Linked DNA regions of Homo sapiens: region 2 is linked to region 1. Evidence: fine-mapped expression QTL. Tissue or cell type: nucleus accumbens. Region 1 holds a variant in brackets; the other region holds the start of a gene. All regions are shown on one strand. Distances are between the middles of the regions.

The links. PIP is the estimated chance that this variant, and not a neighbour inherited with it, causes the effect.
Region 2: it holds the start of SIRT6, and the variant in region 1 is fine-mapped to the expression of SIRT6 in nucleus accumbens (GTEx, PIP 0.98).

The regions. Positions count from the first base shown.
Region 1 is chr19:3,969,607-3,977,862 of GRCh38, reverse strand. It overlaps DAPK3 (death associated protein kinase 3), which reads left to right and starts at 6,764. Exons shown (of 9, transcript NM_001348.3): 1 at 6,764-6,942; 2 at 8,034-8,189. The coding sequence starts at 8,128. EEF2 (eukaryotic translation elongation factor 2) reads left to right here. Exons shown (of 15, transcript NM_001961.4): 12 at 1-44; 13 at 253-435; 14 at 516-648; 15 at 1,116-1,807. The coding sequence ends at 1,309. RefSeq lists enhancers at 254-463, 7,081-7,712, 7,713-8,256 and silencers at 6,780-6,909, 7,898-8,192. The variant G/A (reference allele first, on the strand shown) is at 4,823.
Region 2 is chr19:4,178,573-4,186,572 of GRCh38, reverse strand. SIRT6 (sirtuin 6) reads left to right here and starts at 4,010. Exons shown (of 8, transcript NM_016539.4): 1 at 4,010-4,099; 2 at 5,664-5,791; 3 at 7,287-7,469. The coding sequence starts at 4,034. ANKRD24 (ankyrin repeat domain 24) reads right to left here and starts at 3,884. Exons shown (of 22, transcript NM_001393985.1): 1 at 3,833-3,884; 2 at 112-183. The coding sequence starts at 147. RefSeq lists enhancers at 209-328, 3,827-3,876, 3,947-4,036.

The DNA.
Region 1 (8,256 bases):
TCAAGGACAGTGTGGTGGCCGGCTTCCAGTGGGCCACCAAGGAGGTGAGGCACGGCTCAGCATGTGCAGACCACACCCGTTTCCAGGCTCTAGAGGGACCTCATGGTCCTGCCTCCCGAGACAGAGACCCTAATGGGGCCAAGGCGGGCAAGGCCCCAGGTCCCCCTGGTGGAGACCTGCAGGACTTGGCAGGTGGAGGGCAAGCAGCCGAGGTGTGTCCGGCCCTTGACGGTGGCTCTCCCCCTCCCCCAGGGCGCACTGTGTGAGGAGAACATGCGGGGTGTGCGCTTCGACGTCCACGACGTCACCCTGCACGCCGACGCCATCCACCGCGGAGGGGGCCAGATCATCCCCACAGCACGGCGCTGCCTCTATGCCAGTGTGCTGACCGCCCAGCCACGCCTCATGGAGCCCATCTACCTTGTGGAGATCCAGGTGAGGTCTACCCGCCCACCGCTGACCCTGCCACCGTCCTGCCCAGCGGCCACTGACAGGTTTTCTTTCCCTTCTGGCAGTGTCCAGAGCAGGTGGTCGGTGGCATCTACGGGGTTTTGAACAGGAAGCGGGGCCACGTGTTCGAGGAGTCCCAGGTGGCCGGCACCCCCATGTTTGTGGTCAAGGCCTATCTGCCCGTCAACGAGTCCTTTGGTGAGTGCCTGCCCGGTGTGGCCTGCAGAGCCTGGCAGGCTGGTTTGGGGGACAGAAGCCCAGTTAAGCTTAGCAAGGTGTTAAAGGAGGCGTCCTGATGGGAGCAGGTGATGGATGGAGCAGGTGGTCCAGTTTCTGACAGCTTGTGGACCCCCTAAATCACTGAATTCCCAGGGGAGGGGCTCTCCTATCCCCAGTGTGAGAAGGGCTCTGGGCCTGGAGCTCTGAAGGCCTACGCCCTGGGCCGGTAGAGCAGCCGAGCTGTAGCACAGGGTTGTCCCAAACGAGCAGCGGCATGAGGCCCATGAGTGGCCTGCTAGGCCCTTCGTGAAGTGCTGGGCACCAGGCCGAGTGTCTGGTCTGCAGGGTGACTCAGGCTGAGGAACTAGCCTGAGCTCCTGACAGGACTTTCCTTCTGCCCTGCCACCTTCTCGATGGCCCAGTGAGCCTCTCGCTTCCCTCTGCAGGCTTCACCGCTGACCTGAGGTCCAACACGGGCGGCCAGGCGTTCCCCCAGTGTGTGTTTGACCACTGGCAGATCCTGCCCGGAGACCCCTTCGACAACAGCAGCCGCCCCAGCCAGGTGGTGGCGGAGACCCGCAAGCGCAAGGGCCTGAAAGAAGGCATCCCTGCCCTGGACAACTTCCTGGACAAATTGTAGGCGGCCCTTCCTGCAGCGCCTGCCGCCCCGGGGACTCGCAGCACCCACAGCACCACGTCCTCGAATTCTCAGACGACACCTGGAGACTGTCCCGACACAGCGACGCTCCCCTGAGAGGTTTCTGGGGCCCGCTGCGTGCCATCACTCAACCATAACACTTGATGCCGTTTCTTTCAATATTTATTTCCAGAGTCCGGAGGCAGCAGACACGCCCTCTTAGTAGGGACTTAATGGGCCGGTCGGGGAGGGGGAGGCGGGATGGGACACCCAACACTTTTTCCATTTCTTCAGAGGGAAACTCAGATGTCCAAACTAATTTTAACAAACGCATTAAGAGGTTTATTTGGGTACATGGCCCGCAGTGGCTTTTGCCCCAGAAAGGGGAAAGGAACACGCGGGTAGATGATTTCTAGCAGGCAGGAAGTCCTGTGCGGTGTCACCATGAGCACCTCCAGCTGTACTAGTGCCATTGGAATAATAAATTTGATAAGGTGGTGACTCTGTTCTGCATTTTTCACGGTGTCTTCGCAGGGGAGCGGGGCTGCCCAGTACTGGGCTCCCTGGAGCCTAGAAGGGGACCCGGGCCCTAGTTAGGTGCAGCCTGGGGCTGCCTCAGTGTTAGGTGGAACGTTCTGGAATGGTGGGAATGCCCTACCCCTGTGTCATTCAGAGAAGCAGCTGCCAGCTGCGCGGGTCTGCTGAGCATTTGAAGTAGGATCAGTGCGGCAAGGAATTACGAGATGTCACTTTGAACGCATTTGGATGGCCCTGTGGAGCGAGGGGCTCTGGATTGAACTTCGCAGGTTTCAGCAACTTTCCGAATTGCTGACGAGCTCACAAGTTCTATCTGCCATCAGGATTTTCTGTGGTCACCCCAGTCCTGACTAGTTTATTAGAAACCCATTTTTTTTTTTTTTTTTTTTGAGATGGAGTCTCACCGTTTGCTAGGCTGGAGTGGAATGGCACCATCTCTGCTCACTGCAACCTCCACCTCCCGGGTTCAAGCAATTCTGCCTCGGGCTCCTGGGTAGCTGGGATTACATGCGTGTGCTACCACGCCCAGCCAATTTTTATATTTTTAGTAGAGATGAGGTTTCACCATGTTGGCCTGGATGATCTTGATCACTCGACCTTGTGATCCACCCGCCTTGGCCTCCCAAAGCGTTGGGATTGTACCACTGTGCCCGGCCTTGTAAACACTTTTTTAGAGGCAGAGTCTTGCTGTCTCCCAGATGAGTATAGTGGTGCAGTCAGCTCACTGCATCCTCCACCTCCTGGACTCTCCTGCCTCAGCCTGCCAGGTAGCTGGGACTCCAGGCATGTGCCACCATGCCCAGCTAATTTTTATTTATTTTGAGACAGAATTTTGCTTGGCCTGGTTGGTCTCGAACTCCTGACCTCAAGTGATCTGCCCGCCTCGGCCTCCCAAAGTGCTGGGAATTATAGGCGTGAGCCACTGTGCTGACCTAATTTTTACTTTTTTTGTAGTAATGGGGTCTCACTATGTTGCTCAGGCTGGTCTCCTTCCCGGGCTCAAGCGATCCTTCTGCCTCAGCCTCCCAAAGTGCTGGGATTTCAGGTGTGAGCGCCAATAGCTTAGAAAACTATTTGTTTTTCTAAATAGTGCCTAAGATGTGAGGAGGCCTAATCTTGTCAGTGCTGATAAGGTTAACATGATCATTTTCCGCCTTTTACTCTGTCCTCAGGAAGGCAGGTGGGGACTGTGAAGTAGGGCTGTGGGGTTCTCGGCAAAGGCGGGGGCAGCTCTGGCCCTGCATTGTCAAGGCCAAGCCTCAGCTGAGGTTTTGCCCACATGTAGGTATGCCTGAGGTTTGGTTTGGCTGTCGCATTTGAATTGGGGCTGTAACTGACGCTGTTTCCAGCAGTCAGGGTAACGGATTACTGTGTTTCGAGAATCTCACTCTATCGCCCAGGATGGAGTGCAGTGTTGTGATCTTGGCTCACTATAGCCTCTGCCTCCGGATTCAAGTGCTCAAGCAATTCTTGTGCTTCAGCCTCCCGAGTAGCTGGAATTACAGGCGCCTATCACCAGGTCTGTGTAATTTTTGTATATTTAGGTGAGATGGGGTTTCACCATGTTGGCCAGGCTGGTCTCAAGCTCGACCGTAAGAGATCAGCCCGCCTCAGCCTCCCAAAGTGCTGGGGTTACAGGTGTGAGCCACCATACCGGGTCCTATTCTTTTTTAGTAGTGCAAACGTTAAGATGGTATGTGGAAGCTGAATTTTTTTTTTTTTTTGAGACAGTCTTTGCTCTGTCACCCAGGCTGGAGTGCAGTGGCTCAATCTTGGCTCACTGCAAGCTCCGCCTCCCGGGTTCACGCCATTCTCCTGCCTCAGCCTCCCGAGTAGCCGGGACTACAGGCGCCCGCCACCATGCCCGGCTAATTTTTTGTATTTATTAGTAGAGACAGGGTTTCACCGTGTTAGCCAGGATAGTCTCGATCTCCTGACCTCGTGATCCACCCGCCTCGGCCTCCCAAAGTGCTGGGAATTATAGGCGTGAGCCACTGTGCTGACCTAATTTTTACTTTTTTTGTAGTAATGGGGTCTCACTATGTTGCTCAGGCTGGTCTCCTTCCCGGGCTCAAGCGATCCTTCTGCCTCAGCCTCCCAAAGTGCTGGGATTTCAGGTGTGAGCGCCAATAGCTTAGAAAACTATTTGTTTTTCTAAATAGTGCCTAAGATGTGAGGAGGCCTAATCTTGTCAGTGCTGATAAGGTTAACATGATCATTTTCCGCCTTTTACTCTGTCCTCAGGAAGGCAGGTGGGGACTGTGAAGTAGGGCTGTGGGGTTCTCGGCAAAGGCGGGGGCAGCTCTGGCCCTGCATTGTCAAGGCCAAGCCTCAGCTGAGGTTTTGCCCACATGTAGGTATGCCTGAGGTTTGGTTTGGCTGTCGCATTTGAATTGGGGCTGTAACTGACGCTGTTTCCAGCAGTCAGGGTAACGGATTACTGTGTTTCGAGAATCTCACTCTATCGCCCAGGATGGAGTGCAGTGTTGTGATCTTGGCTCACTATAGCCTCTGCCTCCGGATTCAAGTGCTCAAGCAATTCTTGTGCTTCAGCCTCCCGAGTAGCTGGAATTACAGGCGCCTATCACCAGGTCTGTGTAATTTTTGTATATTTAGGTGAGATGGGGTTTCACCATGTTGGCCAGGCTGGTCTCAAGCTCGACCGTAAGAGATCAGCCCGCCTCAGCCTCCCAAAGTGCTGGGGTTACAGGTGTGAGCCACCATACCGGGTCCTATTCTTTTTTAGTAGTGCAAACGTTAAGATGGTATGTGGAAGCTGAATTTTTTTTTTTTTTTGAGACAGTCTTTGCTCTGTCACCCAGGCTGGAGTGCAGTGGCTCAATCTTGGCTCACTGCAAGCTCCGCCTCCCGGGTTCACGCCATTCTCCTGCCTCAGCCTCCCGAGTAGCCGGGACTACAGGCACCCGCCACCATGCCCGGCTAATTTTTTGTATTTATTAGTAGAGACAGGGTTTCACC[G/A]TGTTAGCCAGGATGGTCTTGATGTCCTGACTTCGTGATCTGCCCACCGTGGCCTCCCAAAATGCTGGAATTACAGGCGTTAGCCACCATGCCCTGCCACTTTTTTTTCTTTGAGATGGAGTCTCCCTCCGTCACCCAGGCTGTAGTATAGTGGCATGATCTCGGCTCGCTGCAACCTCCACCTCCTGGGTTCAAGCAATTCTCCTGCGCTAGCCTCCCGAGTAGCTGGGATTACAGGCATGTGCCACCAGGCCTGGCTAACTTTTGTATTTTTAGTAGAGACAGGGTTTCACCATGTTGAGCAGGCTGGTCTTGAACTCCTACTTCAAGTGACCTGCCCGCCTTGGCTGCCCAAGCTGTTGGGATTACGGGCGTGAGCCACCACACCTGGCCAACCCATTGTACGTTGAAAATGTAAATAAAAAATATAAAGGCCGGCTTGTGGCTCACGTCTGTAATCGCAGCACTTTGAGAGGCCGAGGCCGGCGGATCACAGATATTGAGACCATCCTGGCCAACATGGTGAAACCCTGCGTCTACTAAAAATACAAAAATCAGCTGGGAGTGGTGGCGTGCACCTGTAGTCCCAGCTACTCGGGAGGCTGAGGCAGGAGAATCGCTTGAACCCAGGAGGCAGAGATTGCAGTGAGCCCAGATCTCACCACTGCGTTCCAGCCTGGACGATAGAAGGAGACTGTCTCAAAAAAAAAAAAAAAAAAAAAAAAAGGCTGGGCAAGGTGGCTCATGCCTGTAATTCCTGCACTTTGGGAGGCCGAGGCGGGCGGATCAGGAGGTCAGGAGATCGAGACCATCCTGGCTAACACGGTGAAACCCTGTCTCTACTAATAAATACAAAAAATTAGCTGGGCGTGGTGACGGGCGCCTGTAGTCCCAGCTATTCGGGAGGCTGAGGCAGGAGAATGGCGTGAACCTGGGAGGTGGAGCTTGCAGTGAGCCGAGATTGTGCCAGTGTACTCCAGCCTGGGTGACAGAGCGAGACTCCGTCTCAAAATAATAATAAAAAATGAATTTAGGCCGGGCGCAATGGCTCACGCCTGTAATCTCAGCACTTTGGAAAGCTGAGGTGCCGGATCACCTGAGCTTAGGAGTTCGAGACCAGCCTGGGCAACATGGTGAAACCCCGTCTCTACTAAAAATACAAAAATTAGCCGGGCGTGGTGATGGGCACCTGTAATCCCAGCTACTTGGGAGGCTGAGGCACGAGAATCGTTTGAACCCGGGAGGTGGAGGTTGCAGTGAGCTGGATACCGCCGCTGCACTCCTGCCTGGGTGACAGAGTGAGACCCTGTCTCAAAAAATAAAATTAAAAAAAAAACAAACCTGATACCTCCCAGTGTTGTCAGTTGGCACATACTATGTCTCAATAAAATGCTTGCTGTTACCCTCTATTTTGAGACGAAGAGGGACCCTGTGTATGACAACCCCAGATTGACCTCATTTGCATTTTAAGTATTTAGAATGTGGGTAACAGTTTTCAGTGGAGGAAACTGCCACATAGGGACTAAAGCAGTCCCAGGGTCCACTCCAGGAGCTGCCAGGCGCGCTCGGCCACAGGTGAGCCATCCATTCGCCCAACCGGTGCTCCAGGAAGGCAGGAAGCGGGATGCAGGGCTTCAGCCTCACTTCTCGCAGCTTCAGCACCTGGGTCAGAGGAGAGGCGGGCGGGGCGATGAAGGGACCGGAAGTCGGCCTTTTTTCCGTCCGCTTGACCAGCGTCGACTGCAGCCAATGAAATCAGGGATGGCGAGTGTTCAGCCAGTGGTGAGGCTGCATCCGGGTGTGGGTGCCGAAAAGGCAGCTGGGGGCGGGACGTCGAGGTGCGGCACGAGCGGCGGGCGCACCGGCCAATAGGCGGCGGGGTTCGTTTCCCGGGGGTGGGCACTGGCGGGTGCGGTGACGTCGGCGCAGGCGCGTCGCGGCGGCAGGGGCGCGGGGCTTCTGGAGGCGGCGGCGGTGGCCAGCGCGGCGGCGCCGGCCGTATTCTCCGGGCTGCGGAGGGTAAAGAGCGGGCTCGGGCCGAGGCTGGAGGGCTGGGTGGGGCCAGAGCGGCGCTTCGGGGGCCCGCGGAGGACGAGGGAGGGAGAGAATCTGAGGAGCTGGTAGGTTTGGGGACCCATCTGGGTGACCGGGCCGGGGAAAGGGCTCGGCCGGGCGTGCGAGGGGCGTAGCGGCCCCAGGGATGCTGGAGCGGAGCCTTAGGGATGGGCAAGGCCTTGGGGGCGGGGGGAGGTTCTGCAAAGGGAGCCACTGGGGTCTGCCTAGGGGCTTGTGCGGAGATTGCGGGCGAGAAGGGGCAGAGGACGGTGGAGGAGACTCAGATGGGGCCCTTTTTGGCGGCCCGTTTTGGGGGGTAGGGGAGACGGCGGTTGGGGGACTTTGATACATGGAGCGTGGAGGAAGAGGTTAATCTTGCGAGGACAGTGGAGGTCAGCGGGGGAGGGAGGCAAAGTGGGCTTTCAGGAGCGTGGAAGGCGTCGTCCGGTTCTTGGAAAATTCAGAATTGGAGGGAGTCAGAGATGGTTGGGGGTGGGCGGGGGTGTTCCATCGATGAGGGTCTTAAGAGACCTGCCGAGGGCAAGGACCAGGAGGGGTTAAGGTAGTAACTTGGGAATTTTGATCGGAATGGCAGCACTTTGGGAGGCCTGGGACGATCGCTTGAGCCTTGGAGTTCCAGGCTGCAGTGAGCCATGATTGCACCACTGCACTCCAGCCAGGGCGACAGAGCGAGACTCCTTCTCAAAAAACAACAACACCAACAACAAAAGAAGTAGACTTGAGAACTTCGTTAAGACATTGGCCAGGGAGTAAGGTAGCCCTGGGATTTGAGGTTGAGGAGAACGTGCAGGAATGGTGGGGGATTTTGGCTGAGCAGGTTGAGAGAAGTCTAGGAGTGAGAGGCAAAAAAAGACGCAGGCAGCGTCGGGGAAATCAGAATTATGTGTCTGGAGAGAGTTTTGCGGGGTGAAGGTGGCCCAGTGGGGCTGTTACCAAACTTTTGAGTGGTTATGGGGCTCTAAGAGGTGACATGACAGGACCCAGCCCAGTAAACACAGCACCTCTTTTTGTCGAGTTTGGAGCTTCAGAGTGGAGAGGTGGGAGGCTTGTGTTTGCTGGACAGGTCTGTCCATTAATCTAGGAGAAAAGGGTGGTGTCTCAGTTCCTCACTTCTGTCTTTCCCTGTCTTCTCCAGGGTTGCCATTAGGGGACTCCTGAGGTCCTATCTCCAGGCTGCGGTGACTGCACTTTCCCTGGAGTGGAAGCTGCTGGAAGGCGGACCGGCCGCCATGTCCACGTTCAGGCAGGAGGACGTGGAGGACCATTATGAGATGGGGGAGGAGCTGGGCAGGTGAGCTGTCTGCCCGCACGGCTGGGCTCCAGGGATAGGAGAGAGGCGCTGTGGGGTTTTCTGAACA
Region 2 (8,000 bases), 210 kb before region 1:
AAAGGAGAAGAGGTGGGTACTGGAATGAAAGGGTGGATCTTCAGCCAAGCCCCAGGAGACAGAAGGCTGAAGTTGCAGGGGTGTATCGGGCATCTAGGGCCTCACACTCACCTCTGTCTTCTTAAATCGCGCCCTGAGAGTCTTCATAGTTGGTGCCCTGTGTTTCTCCTCTCCACAGGCCACCTGAGGAGGGCAAGGGTGGGGGTAAGGTGAGGGACACCAGTCCTGGTGGGCGGCAGGGTCCGTTGCCTCGCCCTCCTCAAAAGGACCGCTTCCTCCTTCCTGACCAGTCCTGGCCCCTAGAGCAAGACACAGACCTGCTCTATCTCCTACCTGCTGTGTGTCCTTTGGCAGTTTACTTGCCCTCTCTGTTTTACTTCCCTCATCTATACAGTGACAGAAATGATCCTTTCTTGACCAACTCATGGTCAGTTTTCAGCATGGTCCCTACACAGAGCCTGGCCAAACATGAGGGGCTTCATAAATGCATCTCACTGGTATTTCCTGCGGTCCAAACAGATCAAGCCTTTTCTGGTCTCCTAACTTTTACCTGTGCAGTTATTTCTGCCTAGAATGGTTTCTTTTTTCTTCTCTGAACTCCTACTCATCCTTCAAAGCCCAGTTCCAAAATCCCTTGCTCTTATCAGCTTTGCCTCTTGTTCCCAAGCAGAGATCTAACTCCCCAAATTGGGTTCCCGCCTACCCTGGCTGGGTCTCTGCCTCTGCCTCACCCCTGGCTCCATGGGCTGGAAGGGTCTGGGCTGATTCTGTCCTTTTCAACAGTCAGGGGCTCCCTGGGGACTGAAGCCAGGGCTGACGGCTCTCAGCACAGAGGCATGTTTGCTACATAGTCAGAGGGAACCTCCATGTGACAGCAATTCACCCATAGTGGGTGGAGGTCTGGGGCAATGGCTGCATGCATGTGTGTGACGTTGAGTGTGGGGCGTGTGCACACGTGCACTTCTGTCCACCTGGGCCTGTTCTACGTTCCGCATGGGCAGGCACGGAGGTCAGGCAGGCCTATCTTGAGGGGGTGTGTTTTTTGAGGGGTGTGACTGTGAGGCCCTATGTGTGAAAGGGATTTCTGTGATGGAGAATCTGTATTTGCCTCTTACCAAGGAGTAGGGGTTGGCATGGCCTCTACCTGTCCACCTATCTACTCGTGAATTCTCCAAGCCACCCTTCCACGCATTTACCACCTATGCACTCACCTGGACATCCATCCTCCCACCTAAGCACTGTATAACCACCCACTGGCCACCACCCACAAACCCACCCACCCAATTCATGTTCTCATGGTTCTTCATCACCCTTTAATCAGATTTCACCCACACATCCATCCACCCACCCAAACACCTACCAACTCCCACCATTCATCCATCCACTCATCCACCCATCCATCCACTTATCCATCCCTTCATCCATCCACCCAACCACCCATCCATCCATCTGCCCAAGCATCCATCCATCCACCCATCTGCCCACCCAATCACACACCCATCCACCCATCCACCCACCCACCCATCCACTCATCCATCCACTTATCCATCCCTCCATCCACCCACCCAACCACCAATCCATCCATCCACCCACCCACCCACCAGTGCATCCATCCACCCACCCACCAGTCCATCCATGGATCCTTCCATCCATCCATCCATCCACTTATCCATCCCTCCATCCATTTGCCCAATCACCCACCCATTCATCCATCCACCCATCCATCCATACATCTACCCATTCACCCATCTACCAAACCACCAATCCACCTATTCGCCCCCCATCCATCCACCCACCCATCCATTCATCTACCCCTCCACCGGTGCCCATTCACTCACTACCTACCCTTTTTTCTTCTACCTCTGACTGGAGGATTCAATCACACCCAAAGCAGGGGGTAATAAGACACCCAACAGAGGAGTTCACAGGCTGCTTGGGAGAAGACAATCCGTGGGCTTGGGGGAGGGAGAAACGCCTGCTAAATTTAGGAAGCTGCTTGCTGGAAGAGGTGATGGTAAATAAGAAGGGCCTGATGGCCGGGTGGGATGTTGAGCACCTGCCTTGGAGGAAGCTAGGCAGGGCACAGGCCGGCAAGTGGGAAGTGCGTGGGTGAACGAGTGCATGTGTGTGTCAGGGTACCTGGGTAGCTCCGCAGCCTGGCTAGGACTCAGCACGGCTTCTTTCTCCCACATACAAGGGCTCAGGGGCCTGGGGCCATAAGGGGATCCTCCGTCCTGGGCCTCTCCCACCTCCTTCCTCCCCTACCTCCTGCAGCTCCAGTGCCCCGAGCTCCCGGCCACAGTGCCCACTGCCGGCTCCGGTTACCCACTCCCAGCTGGGCCACGAGCAGCTCCAGCCGCTCCACTCTGACACCTGATCGGCTCTGAGCAGGCGGCCGCCCCAGGGGGCCGGGGATGAGCCGAGGGAGGAGACAGGCTGGCAGCGGACTGCCTGTTGGCCAACTGGCTCTGGCGGGAAGACACCCACGATCTTCCCTATCATCACTGGACTGATTTCAGTTTCTGGAAGGAGCCATGCTCTTCCTCTTTCTCAGCCTTTGCACTTGCTGTTCCCCCCACCAGGAACATTCTTTCTGTACTTCATGTCACCCCAACCGGCTCTACCTGACTCATGCACTCTTTATTTATTTATTTATTTATTTTTGAGACGGAGTTTCATGCTTGTTGCCCAGGCTGGAGTGCAATGGCGCGATCTCCGGCTCACCGCAATCTCCGCCTCCTGGGTTCAAGCAATTCTCCTGCCTCAGCCTCCCGAGCAGCTGCGATTACAGGCCACCACACCCAGCTAATTTTGTATTTTTAGTAGAGACGGGGTTTCTCCATGTTGGTCAGGGTGGTCTCGAACTCCCAATCTCAGGTGATCCACCTGCCTTGGCCTCCCAAAGTGCTGGGATTACAGGTGTGAGCCACTGCGCCCGGCTCACTCACTTTTTAGATCTTTGCTGCAACATCCCCTCCTCCAGGAAGCCCTCCCGGATGCCCCCAGCCTGGGTCAGGTGCCTCCTGTGAGCCCCCTCACTGCCCTGTGCCCTCTGCATCACCCATTGCACCCCAACCACACCATGTCACCATTACCTGGTCACATGTTTGTGTCCACCCGCAGCCACCAGGGCATAGATGGTACCACCTTTGCTCTCCAGTGTGCCCAGTACAAAGTAGGTACTCAACACATGATTCTTAAATGAGTCCTCCAGGCCACCAGCCCCATTGACCTTGAGCAGGACCTGTCCTGCAGAATGCAGAACCTCCAGTTGGATGATACTCAGATAACTTGGCCGGACGCAGTGGCTCACGCCTGTAATCCCAGCACTTTGGGAGGCCGAGGCGGTCAGATCACCTGAGGTCAGGAGTTCGGGACCAGCCTGACCAACATGGAGAAACCCCGTCTCTACTAAAAAATACAAAAATTTGCTGGGTGTGGTGGCGGGCGCCTGTAATCCCAGCTACTAGGGAGGCTGAGGCAGGAGAATCGCTTGAACCCAAGAGGCGGAGGTTGCAGTGAACCGAGATTGCGCCACTGCACTCCAGCCTGGGCAACAGAGCGAGGCTCCGTCACACACACACACACACACACACACACACACACAAATGAGATATTCAGGTAACTCTGCGTGGCATTCAAAACCCTTAGGCTGGGGTCCCTGCTGTCCGGCTCTGTCCTTACGGAATTTACTAATCCGTAAAAGGGGTTGTGGGGACATGGATAGCCTGTGTCCCGCATTTTAGAGGTGACTGGAGAACTCTCACGTAGGCGGCCGCCCCAATTTCCCGCCCGGGTCATCGGGGAGCCCCTTCCCAAGCCCCGCAAACACCTGCATGCAAAGAGGCAGGCTTCCTTCTGACAGCAGATAACATGTCGCCTGCGGCGTCAGCAAGAGGCGCATGCGCCTTGCCGTGGGAGGCCGGGTGCGCAGGACTGGAACGCGGTTCCTCCTTCTTCCCCGCCCCGCCCCGCTTCCGGCGGAAGCGGCCTCAACAAGGGAAACTTTATTGTTCCCGTGGGGCAGTCGAGGATGTCGGTGAATTACGCGGCGGGGCTGTCGCCGTACGCGGACAAGGGCAAGTGCGGCCTCCCGGAGGTGAGCGCGTCTGAGGGTCCCGAGCATCGCGCCCCAGGGCCGCGGGCTGGGAGCGGCCGGATGGCAGGGGGGCATTGTGGGAATATCAGGGGGCACTGAGGCTAGACAATGGGAGGGACTTCCCAGTGAGGAAGGGGCGGGAAGTGACGCCCCTGCGCGCCGGGGGACGCCAACACGCCCAACTCTGTGGTCACCCTGTCGGGGCTGATCGGGGAGAGAGGGGATGTAGTTCCAGGAAGAGGGGACGACAGGCGCAAAGGGAGGTGGGAATAAACACACCTGGAGAACGATTAGGCCTGGGAGGTTTCCAGAGCCGGGCCAGGACGGGGCTCAAATGCCAGGCTGGGGAGTTGGCACTTTATCCTGAGGGTGATGGGGAAGGGTTTTGCCCTGGCGAGGGGACTGGACAGAATGTGCCAGAAAGATCCCTCCAGCCACTCAGAGGGGAAGTGGAGGGATCGGCTGCCCCCTCCACGCACTGTGGGACTTTGGGGAAGTCACTTCCCTTTTGGGTCTCCATCTCCAAACTTTCTGCAAACGAGGTGAAGATGGCCCCATTCCATAAGGCTGGCCCATGCATTCTGACTCATGCATTTAATGAGCGCTGATGGTGTGCGCCCGTCCAGAAGCCCCACTCTTCACTGCTGCTGTTAGTCACTTTATTATTATTATTATTATATTTTTGAGATGGAGTTTCTCTGTCGCCCAGGCTGGAGTGCAGTGGCGCGATCTCGGCTCACTGCAACCTCCGCCTCCTAGGTTCAAGCGATTCTCCTGCCTCAGCCTCCTGAGTAGAGTAGATGAGACTACAGGCACCTGCCACCACGCCTGGCTAATTTTTGTATTTTTAGTAGAGGCGGGGTTTCACCATGTTGGCCAGTCTGCTCTTGAACTCTTGATCTCAAGTGATCCACCCACCTTGGCTTCCCAAAGTGCTGGGATTATAGGCGTGAGCCACCATACCCGGCCTGTTAGTCACTTTATTCCACCAACATTTATAGAGCACTTACTGTAGCTCAGGCACTTTCTAGGTACTAAGGCCACAGCCAGGAGCAACACAGATTAAAAACCCCTCCTTCTAGTAAGGGAGACTGACTAGGGGTTGCATGGAAACCAGTTGGCCAAGGGAGGCATCACTGTCACTGAAGTGACATCTAAGCCACAAGTTACAGGAGGTGAGGGAGGGAGCCATGTGGGTATCTGGGGGAAGAGCATTAAAGGGTGTGGCCCTGAGGCGGGACTGTGCCTGGTGTGATAGAGGAACAAGGAGGAGACCTGTGTGGCTGGAGCAGAGTGAGGCAGGGAGAGGGAGGAGAAGAGGGCAGGGAGGGGGCAAGGGAGGTAGTGCAGGGCCTGGTGGGCCGTGGGAAGGGCTAGGGCTTTGACAAGGCAGGTGGGAGGCATGGAAGGTTGTAGGAAGAGGAGGGGCATGAGGACAAGCTGCCTTTTCCAATCCATTTTCCTCCCTCAGGCAAGACAGGGACAGCTCAGTCTGTGGCTCGTGCGTGGCCTTGCCACTTGGGGGAACTGTTTTGACCCCTCCGTCTGCTCTCTCCCCCCACAGATCTTCGACCCCCCGGAGGAGCTGGAGCGGAAGGTGTGGGAACTGGCGAGGCTGGTCTGGCAGTCTTCCAGTGTGGTGTTCCACACGGGTGCCGGCATCAGCACTGCCTCTGGCATCCCCGACTTCAGGTCTGTGATTGTGCAGGGGAAGTCGAGGCAAGGCCTACCAGGCTGCCAGAGGCTTCCCTGCGAGCCACACACATCTGGGAATGAGAACACATCCATCTGCTTTCCTCCTGGATGTGTCCTGGGTACTCCCTTTAAGATGTGTCCCTTGGCTGGGCATGGTGGATCACAAGGTCAAGAATTCCAGACCAGCCTGGCCAATATGGTGAATCCCTGTCTCTACTAAAAATACAAAAATTAGCCAGTTGTGGTGGCACACATCTGTAGTCCCAGCTACTCGGGAGGCTGAGGCAGGAGAATTGCTTGAACCTGGGAGGTGGAGGCAGTGAGCCGAGATTGCACCACTGCACTCCAGCCTGGGCGACAGAGTGAGGCTCCGTCTAAAAACAAAACAAAAAGATGTGTCCCTTGTCACAACCAGCATTCCACTCACCTCATTGGCCAGAACACGGTCACCTGATCACACCTGGCTGCAAGGGTTGCTGGGAAATGTAGTCTTTCATATTTGCAAGCGTAGCCAGGTGTGGTGGCAGGCACCTGTAATCGCAGCTACTTGGAAGGCCGAGGTGGGAGAATCGCTTGAACCCGGGAGGCAGAGGTTGCAGTCAGCCAGGATCATGCCATTGTACTCCAGCCTGGGCAACAGAGCCAGACTCCATCTCAAAAAAAAAAAAAAAAAAAAAAAAAAAAAGCCAAGGCGTGAATTTCTCCTCCTTCTCCTCTTCCATAACCTGCTGTGGCTCCCCATTGCCAGGCAGTGTAGAGTTCTGAATACCTTGTGCTGGAAGCTGAAGCCCTTCCTGCCCCAGCCCTGAATCACCTCTCCAACTTCAGCCCCTCCTGCTCCTGCTGCAGCCCCCAAAACACTTGCATTTTCTCCTAAACTCATGGGCTCTTCCCAGCACCCAGGCCTTTGTTTACCCCTTCTGTCTGATCTTCCCTCTCACCCTTCAAGAAACTGCTTAGCCTCCTCCAGGAAGCCCTTCCACGTGCCCCAGGGCCCCCACCTCCACGGGGCTTCCCCAGGCCCAGGTACCTCCTCTGATCCAGGCTTGACTCTTGGGGCCAGAGGATCTGTGTCCACCTGTCTCCCCCAAGATCAAGGGCTTCTGGAGGGCAGGGCTTGGGCCCATGTGAGCATCGTCGGGCTCATTGCAGCAGCAGTGTTGGTTGAATAGAATAAGTCATTTTTGCCTTCGTGTGAATTCATCTCTCTCTCTCTGCCTCTCCCTCTCTCTGTCTCTCTCCAATTCTGTCTCTGACTTGCTTTGTCTTTAACTCTTTATCTCTCTGTCTGTGTCTTGTTCTATCCCCCTCTCCCTGTTCTTGCAACTCACCCTCTATTTCTGTTTCTGATTCCCTCTCTCTGTCTCCCTGTCTCTCTCTGTCTCCTGATTTTCTCTCTCTCCAACTTTCTCTCTATACCTCTCTGATTCTCCCTCTGTCTCTTTTTCTGTTCCCCTCTCCCCGTCCATCTCTCCCGGCCTGCCACCTTCAGGGGTCCCCACGGAGTCTGGACCATGGAGGAGCGAGGTCTGGCCCCCAAGTTCGACACCACCTTTGAGAGCGCGCGGCCCACGCAGACCCACATGGCGCTGGTGCAGCTGGAGCGCGTGGGCCTCCTCCGCTTCCTGGTCAGCCAGAACGTGGACGGGCTCCATGTGCGCTCAGGCTTCCCCAGGTAACACCCTGGCCCCGCCCCCACAAAAGAGCTTGGGGCCCCACAAACCGTGTTTGCATTTTTAGGGGGAGAGTCCCCTTTTCCTGGTTCTATAAGATTCTAGCCCTGAGTTCTTGGCCCAGTGTGTGGAGATCTCTGAGTCCCATGGCTCAGAGCTGTCCCGGCTGAGGCCAGAGGCAGAATTTCCCTCGAGATGGGGCTAAGGGGAGGAGAGCTGTCAGGGTCTAGAAGTTGCAGTTTGTTTTTTGTTGTTGTTGTTGTTTTTGAGACCGAGTTTCGTTCTTGTTGCCCAGGCTGGAGTGCAATGGCGTGATCTCCGCTCAGCCTCCCAGGTTCAAGCGATTCTCCTGCCTCAGCCTCCCTAGTAACTGGGATTACAGGCATGCGCCATCACACCCAGCTAATTTTGTATTTTTAGTAGAGACGGGGTTTCTCCATGTTGGCCAGGCTGGTCTTGAACTCCTGACCTCAGGTGATCTGCCCGCCTCAGCCTCCCAAAGTGCTGGGGTTACAGGTGTGAGCCACCACGCT